2 separate regions of the Homo sapiens genome follow, and region 2 is linked to region 1. Evidence: fine-mapped QTL for protein levels in blood plasma. Region 1 holds a variant in brackets. A gene starts in the other region. All regions are shown on their forward strands.

What was found. PIP is the chance, under the fine-mapping model, that this variant and not a neighbour inherited with it causes the effect. Protein levels are from antibody-based Olink assays in UK Biobank. Linkage for the fine-mapping came from a reference panel and not from the study's own genotypes, which makes the PIPs less certain.
Region 2: CTSO starts here. The variant in region 1 is fine-mapped to the plasma level of the CTSO protein (UK Biobank, PIP above 0.99).

What each region holds. Positions count from the first base shown.
Region 1 is chr6:160,727,623-160,732,023 of GRCh38, forward strand. It overlaps PLG (plasminogen), which reads left to right. Exons shown (of 19, transcript NM_000301.5): 11 at 3,429-3,610; 12 at 4,123-4,271. Among named protein-coding and RNA genes, the nearest start is that of PLG, 28 kb to the left of the region's middle. The variant G/A (reference allele first, on the strand shown) is at 1,652.
Region 2 is chr4:155,953,502-155,957,902 of GRCh38, forward strand. It overlaps CTSO (cathepsin O), which reads right to left and starts at 365. Exons shown (of 8, transcript NM_001334.3): 1 at 212-365. The coding sequence starts at 346. RefSeq lists an enhancer at 1,476-1,770.

The DNA.
Region 1 (4,401 bases):
ACATTTACAAAACAATCCATGTAATCCAACATGTTAACAGAATAAAAGTGATAAATCATATGATTATGTCAATAGATGCAGAAGAAAATGTGACAAAATTTAACACTTATCCATGATAAAATGTCTTAGCAAACTATGAATAGACTGGAACTTCTTTAACTTGATCAAAGGCATCTACAAAAGACCTCCAGATAACATCAACTTAATGGTGAAAGATTAATGTTTTCTCTCTAAGATTGGGAATAAGAAAAATATGTTTGCTCTCAGTACTTCTAATCAGCATTTTACTACATTGGTCACAACCATTGCCATAAGACCTGAAAACAAAACAAAAAGAGAGGAAAAAAAGGAAGGAAAGAAAGAAAGGGCCTAAAGTTTGGAGAGGAAGAATTAAAACTGCCTGTATTCACAGAAAGCTTAATTAACGGATGCAGAAAGTCCTAAAGATTAATAATTAAATTTTGCAAGATTGGAGAACACATAAGTATATACATGATCAATATAATAAAAGTAGTTGTATTTTTATACACTGCCAATGATCAACTGGAAAATAAAAATGTCAGAGCAATACCACTGACAATAGTATCAAAACCACAAGATATTTAGTGATACATTTAACACAATATGCACAAGAATTATGTACTGCATACTAAAAAACATTGTTAAGGAAGGAATCAAAAGATCTAAATAAAGATATATCACGCTTATATATTAAGAGTCAATATCACTTCTCACCAAATTGATCTTTGGATTCAGCCCATACCCAACCAGAATCTCAGCAGTCGTTTTTTTTAAAAAATGTGAAAAAATGTATATGCTAGAATCACAAGGACAATATTTAAAGAGAAGAAAAAAGTTGGAGGACTTACTTACCCAAAGGTAAAGACCTATAAAGGTACAGTAAACAAGATATGTGGTATTGGGAAAAAAAAGTATACAGATATAGAAATGGATGGTCCAGAAACAGATCCACATATACATGATCAATTTAGTTTCTAGGTAGGTGACAAGGAAATTCAACAGGGAAAAACATCTTTTCCAAAATCATTGTGAAACAATCGGATATCCATCTAGAAAACAAAAATAAAAACAAATTTTGACTTCTACTTTCCATCCCAAATTAATGTGCAAAAGCTCCTAGATCTAAATGTAAGAGCTAAAACTTAAGCTGAAATAAAACAATTCCAGGAAAATATATAATATTTTCACAAACTTGAGGAAGGCAAAATTTTTTTCAGGCAGGACCCAGAAAACACTAGCTTTAAAAGAAAATAAATTATAATTTGGGCTTTCATAAAATGAAAATTATGTTCATCAAAAGTCATTGTTAAGAAATCAGTAGGTAAGTAACAGACTGGAATAAAAATTCTCTCCATCCATATATCTGACAAATGGTTTGTATCTAGAGTATAAACGTTTCTCCCACTCACTAATCAGAGGACAAACAACCTAATTAAAATGGGCAACAGAATTGAATAGGAAATTTCTCAGGGAACGATGGACAGATGGACAATAAGCACCTGAAAAAATGCTCAACATTTTAGCCATCAAAGATATAAGAATTATAACCATCACAAGATGTCACCAACACTTAATGGGCATGGGTATCATTAAGAAGACACAACAATAAGTGCTGTCACTGATGTGGAGC[G/A]AGGATGTGCAGCTCTCGCATACGCTGGTTAAAGTACAGTATGCTGGTTTTCCATAAAGTTAAATAACTATGAGTCTACCCCAAAAAACTGCAATTCTATTCCTGAATATTTACCCCATGGAAATGAAAACAGAAGTCCACAAAGAGATCTACAAGAATATTCACAGCAGCTCTAGTTATTATAACCCCAAACTGTAAACAACTACAAGGTCAATCAATGAGAAAATGAATCGATAATTTGTGATCTATTCATATAATGGAATATTATTAAGCAATTAAAATGAAGAAGTGACTGATCCTCTCAAATAGGATGGATGGAACTCAAAAATATATTAAGGAAAGGAGGCAGATACATAAGTGTACATTCTGTATGAGCCCATTTATATCAGGTTTGAGGAGAGGTAAAACTAATCTTTAGTGAAGGAAACCAATAGTATTTCCCTCTGGCAGTGGGAAGAGGGTAGCAGGAATTGAATGAGCAGTGACACAGGGTGTTTCTAGAGTAATGGAAGTGTTCTGTATCATATGGGAGTGTGGTTTACACAAGTATAGGTGATCATCAAAACTCACCAAACAACATTTAAGATCTGTGCATTTCACACTATGTAAAAGTATACCTCAACTGAAGAGAGTGGAAATCTGTTTCAAATGCTCAGCCTTTTAACACATCCAGTTGCTTAGACTATGAACTTCCTCAAATGGGGTGTCTGGGCTTGAGATTAGATCACATGTGTAGAGTCGCTAGAGAGACAATGTTGCATTCCCATGGTACATAATACATTTCCCGTTTTCTCAGACAGCCACAGGTCATGAATGTGAGGATTCTGAGAGGTTGGAGCAACATTCTTGGGAGGCATGAGGGGGAGCACATTCTCCAAGATCCCCCCCAGCCCGGGGTCCTCGCCTGCTTTGACTATTACTCCGTTGTTTTCGGACTCCTCCGTAGCTGCCCGACCTCTTCAGATCCCATAGTCTCCCTTTATATCTTGAGTCCCACTGTTCTTCCAACTCATCCCCCATTCCCTCAGACCTGGAGTGGCAGTGGCCAGCAGAGGATGGATTGAGAGCAGGAGAGGATGTCCTGCCCAGGAACCCATCCTAGAGAAATGGCATCCTGCCTGGGAGCTAGTTTCCCAGGGTGGCTTTGATACGTCTTGCAGAAACAAACCCACTTGACACACCTGATACGGTATTGACAGTAACACTATTTTTCGTGGTTGTTTTTCATAGTAAAAGTAGATCCCTTTAGTTACACTGTGAGTACTTAGAGTAAGGTGACTGGCCTGGGAATGATACCATCTTGGATGTCATTTTCTCCTTGGAGAAATGTATTTTAGTTCCAATGCACATTTCACAATACAGTCCTATAGAGAGAAATACAGAGAGCTAGACAGTTAGAGATATACTTTTATGTGCATAAAAATATAAAATATGCACTTTAAAATCTGTACCTGTTATTCCTGAGAAATGTATTTGGCAGAAGGTGGGAGGGGGATATTCTGATCCTTTTATTTACATGTTTATGTATGATCTGAGTTTTTATATGGAGCATATACTACTTTTGATTTTTTAAAGAAAAATTAAAATCTGTCTTTGAAATGTACACAGTTGTTTAGAAGTTGAGGACCATTTTTGTTTGTTACAACATTATTGTACCTATAATGGGAATATTTCAAAGCCACTTGTTAACACTTTGTTAGAACAAAATGTAGAGGGTGCTGGGTGCCCCTGAATATTCTCCCACCTCTTGTGACCTGTATTGTTTTGGAATTTCCAGTGGCCTGACAATGAACTACTGCAGGAATCCAGATGCCGATAAAGGCCCCTGGTGTTTTACCACAGACCCCAGCGTCAGGTGGGAGTACTGCAACCTGAAAAAATGCTCAGGAACAGAAGCGAGTGTTGTAGCACCTCCGCCTGTTGTCCTGCTTCCAGATGTAGAGACTCCTTCCGAAGAAGGTAAGAAATCTGTGGCTGGACATCTACACACTTGGACGCTGGGATGAAAAGCCATGGAAAATCTCACTGATGCAGAAACCTTCCATGCTACACGAGAAATCAAGTGTTTTTAGAGGGTCTGCCATGTGGAAGGAAGCCTCAGTGCACTCTCTCAAGGAGGCAGAGGTGTGACTTTTGGCACAACGTGAGTGGGCTGTGCCTTTAGGACAGGTGCAAACCCTCCAAGGTGCTCAACTTAACCACTCACCTTGTTCTAAAATGGGTTATCTCAGTATCCCAGTCCAAATTCGTATTCTATCATGCTGCCATATGTGTGATTCTTTCCAAGCCAGTAAGCATCTCCAGTAATTTCTTAAGGTAGGCAGCGTTCATTGCAGTCTTCAGCATTGCAGTTTCTGAGGAATGTGGCCCCTGATTCTGTCATCCTAGAGAAACCTGACATGACTGTATTGATTCCATATCATCCTGGGTCTCTGTGGCTCTTCATAATCATCCATTTTTTCCCTGTACAGACTGTATGTTTGGGAATGGGAAAGGATACCGAGGCAAGAGGGCGACCACTGTTACTGGGACGCCATGCCAGGACTGGGCTGCCCAGGAGCCCCATAGACACAGCATTTTCACTCCAGAGACAAATCCACGGGCGGGTCTGGAAAAAAATGTAAGCCACTTTGATTTGGACTCTTTGGCCTTTTGCTCACCAATCTTTGCAAACAGAATTGGTTCTGTGTTACAGAAAATCTGACCTGGACTGCTCTTTTTTGTAATGGGGGAGAGGGGACAGAAGAAAA
Region 2 (4,401 bases), not on the chromosome of region 1:
TTAGCAAAGGCATGGGGGAGTGACACCATGGCACAAGGAGAGGGGAGAGAGAAGCTGGCTTTTGCACCCGCAGCTCAGGGCCCCAGACGCATCGCAGAGCCACGGGTGCCCACGAGCAGGGTCAGCTCTCGGGGGCCCTCTTCCGCAGCCCAGACCCGGGACAGGAAGTGAGGGAGCAGGGACAGATCCCGGGGAGGCGCGCGCTCGGTACCCGGAAGGCGGCGGCTTCACGCTCGCGGCTCCGCGGCCAGGTCGGGGTGAAGGGGGCGCGGGAGTCCGCATCGCCGCCGCCCCGGCACAGCAGCCACAGCAGCCACGGCAGCCACGGCAGCGCCCGCACGTCCATTGCGGCGCCCGGCTCCTCTGCCGCCCGCGCGGCCTGTTTTCTCTTTCGGTTCCTCGGCTCCTCCCAGCCTGGGCTCGAGGGGCGGAAGGAGCTGGGTTGAGTGCACGATGCTGAGATTGACCCTTTTTTAGGTCCCCGGTGTTCTGTGACTGAAAATCCGGTCAGCTGGAGGCTACGGACCTCCTTGCTGAGGCTAGTTTTTTTGTTTTTGTTTTTGTTTTGGAAGAGTCAGGCACTTGACCATGTGCTTTCGAGGTTTCACTTCCATCCATTAGAAAAAAAGAAGCCTGAGAGTCATTCTTTTGTGTGTGTTGAGATCAGGTCTCACTGCAGCCTCGACCTTCAGGTTCAAGTGCCTCCTGCCTCAGCCTCCGGAGTACCTGGGACTACAGGCGCGTGCCACCACCCCAGGCTATTTTTGTATTTTTAGTAGAGATAGGATCTTGCCATATTGCCCAGGCCGGTCTCGAACTCCTGGACTCTAGTGATCCACCCGCCTTGGCCTCCCAAAATGCTCACAGGTGTGAGCCACCTGGCCTGCCCTGTGAGCCACCGGAAGCTGCCTTTTTCCTTCTTGCCACAATCCCTAAGTTCAAGACCTAGTTCTGAAGTGATGTGGGCCAATACATAGAGTCATCCATTCAGCAGATGTTTATAAATACGTAACAAAATTGTACAGATGTGAAAAGCATACACAGTTTTTGGATCTATTATGGCAGTTTCAAAACTCTTGAAGCCTGTTTCTCCGTTTGCAAAGGAAGATAGAGCCAAGTACATAATTTGCAGGGTTCCGTGTAAACTGAAAATGAAGTTCCCTTGTTCATAAATTGTGAAGAATTTCAAGACGGCAACAGCAGAGCATTAACCCAAGCCATGGGCCTTCTAAGCACCCACTTCTGCACAGGTCACACACTCATGAACCTGGCTCTACCGAGCCTTTCTATTATCATCTATTCTGAACAAGGCTTCCATGTCTGTGAAATTCATATCATTACCCTTGTAGATTTTTAGAACTAACATCAGATTTATGTCTTTAGTTTTTACCTAGGTGCAGTGAGTTACAATATTCTCCAATGCAAACTTCGTAATAAAAATAAAAATAATGTTCCGAGTATTAAGAGGAAAGACACAAGAGTTTTTTATGTACGTTCATGATAAGATATATTGCTCTTGGCAAGTGTGGTGATAAAGATTTTATTTAAATCATAAGTTCACAGAACGATGTTCATGTTTACCTCAGCAGTTCTTTTGTACTTAGCCCTTTTTTGTGACTCATACAAGCACATACTTTTCTTTTTAAACTGAACTTTGCTTTCAGATCATAGTCCCTGTTTATTGACAACCTACGGAGTCAGGAAATTTAAATATAGGCAGTCATCTTTACTTTAGGATAATTGGTATTGTAAAAAAGCCCCTTGAACTAAACTCATTTCAGGAGCTCACATCAAGTATTTATTGAGTACCTGCTAAGTGTCAGGCATTCTTCTAGGTAATGAGGATATATCAAGTAAGTGGATAAGTGACTAAAGGGATGAAAATCCCCATCCCTATGGGACTGATATTTCAATTGATTTACATCAACAAATATTTTATTGAGTACTTCCTAAGTGTCAGGCATTGTTCTAGGTCATCAGGACACATCATGGATGGAAGTGCATAAGTGACTGAAGAGATGAAAAGCCCCACCCTGTTGAAGCTGGTATTTCAGTGAGGGGGAGAGACGCAATAAAATTACTACAGGTTGAGGATCCCTTATCCACAATGCCTGGGTCTGGAAGTGTTTCAGATTTCAGATTTTTTCCCCCCAGATTTTGGAATATTTGCATATACATAATGAGATCTCTTGGGGATGAGACCCAAGTCTAAACACAAAATTCATTTGTGTTTCACTTATGCTACTGACTGAAGGTAATCTTACTGACTATTTTAGGTAATTTTATGCATAAAACAAGGCTTTGAATGCATTTTGACTATGACCCACCACATGAAGTCAGGTGTGAAATTTTCTAGGTGTGGCATGATGTCAGTACTCAATAAGTTTTAGATTTTGGAGTATTTTGGGTGTTTGGATTAGAGATGCTCAACTTGTACATGTGTTAAAGGACAATAAATCCAGATAAGGAGCATCATCAGTGTGAGGGGTGGTACTGCTATTTTAAATAAGCTGTTCAATACTGTCCTCACTGATGAGGAGAGTTTTGAGCAAAGATTTGAAGGAGAAGAAAGTGAGCCACATGGATATTCAGATATCCAGGGAAAGAGAAGCTAAGACAGAAAGAACTGTCAACACAAAGGCCTTGAGATGGAAGTTTGCTTGGCACGTTCCAGAAACATAAAAGACGTCAGCATGGATGGAGTAAAGGAAAAAAAAAAGGATGGGGGAGAGTAGAATATGAGATAAGTAAGAAGCGCACAGATTGTGAAGAATTTTGGGTCAGTTAAAAGGGAGATCAGAATCATCTATTAAGTAGTAAAACAAAGTTTTTGAAAAGTGGCTTGAAAAGTGAAGGTGGCAAGTATCTGCTAATTCTTAGAATAAACACTACAAATTACATGTATATGTAGAGATGTGTTTTTTTCATCAAATTTGCAAAATAGCACATGGAACTTCCCTCAACTCTGTATTAGATATCTATTGCCATGTAAAATATAACCCTCAAACTTAGCATCTTAAAAATACGAATTTTTCTTATCTTAAACAGTTTCTGTGGACCAGGAGGGAGCAGCTTATCTGGGTGGTTCCAGCTCAGAGTGTCTCATGAGGACGCAGACAAGCTGTTGCATATGGCTGCAATCTTCTGAAGGTTTCCCAAGTTTAAAGGATTCAATTTCAAGCTCATGTGGCTGTTAGCAAGAGTCCTCAGCTCCTCTTAGGCCTTTGGACAAAATCCTCAGAACCTTATCAGAAGGCTGGGCTTTTCCTGCCAGCTCTTTGTTCCTGCAGAATGAGTGAATAGAGAAATTGAGACAGTGGACCAGGGAATGACTGAGGTGGGAGCAGCAGTGTCTTTTTATAACCTTATCTTGAAACATATCATCTCTTCTGCCATTGGTTACACAGAGCCAGTCTGGTAAGATGTGGGAGGTGGAGCTGACATAAGGTGGGGTCATCAGGTGCCATCTTGGAGGCCCGCTACCACAGCCTCATGTTGAATGTTATAAGCCCAGTAACAAATGCAGTCATTTCTTTATGTGTGAAAATACTCCAGAGCTAACCATTTTCACAAATACCTCTTAACCTTTATGATACACAAATCAATATTTACTGTTGTTTTTATCCCGTTATGCACCTTCTGGGTTTTCTTCCATTTTTAATCATGCTACTTCATGTTTCAGTGACTTTGCTACGGAATTATTTTGTTTCTTTGTTTTTTTTTTTTTTACCTTTTTTTTGTTTGTTTGTTTGTTTGTTTTGTTTTGTTTTGAGATGGAGTATCTCTCTTGCTCAGGCTGGAGTGCAGTGGTATGATCTCGGCTCACTGCAACCTCTGCCTCCCGGGTTCAAGTGATTCTTCTGCCTCAGCCTCTCAAGTAGCTGGGACTACAGGTGCACACCACCATGCCCAGCTAATTTTTGTATTTTTAGTAGAGATGAGGTTTCATCATGTTGGCCAGGATGGTCTCAATCTCTTGACCTCGTGATCCACCCGCCTCAGCCTCCCAAAGTGCTGGGGTTACAGGTGTGAGCCACTGTGCCCAGCTGGAGATTTCTTAAAAAGCTGAAAGTAAACTACCATTTGATCCAGCAGTCTCACTACTGAGTACCTACCCAAAGGAAAATAAGTCATAATATGAAAAACACACATGCACACACATGTTTATAGCAGCACAATTTGCAATTGCAAAGATATGGAACCAACCTAAATGCCCATCAACCAATGAGTGGATAAAGAAAATGTGGTATATATACACTGTGGAATACTAGTCAGCCATAAAAAGGAACGAAATAATGTCTTTTGTAGCAACTTGGATGGACTGGAGGCCATTATTCTAAGTGAGGTAACTCAGGATTGGAAAACCAAATATTGTATGTTCTCACTTATAAGTGGGAGCTA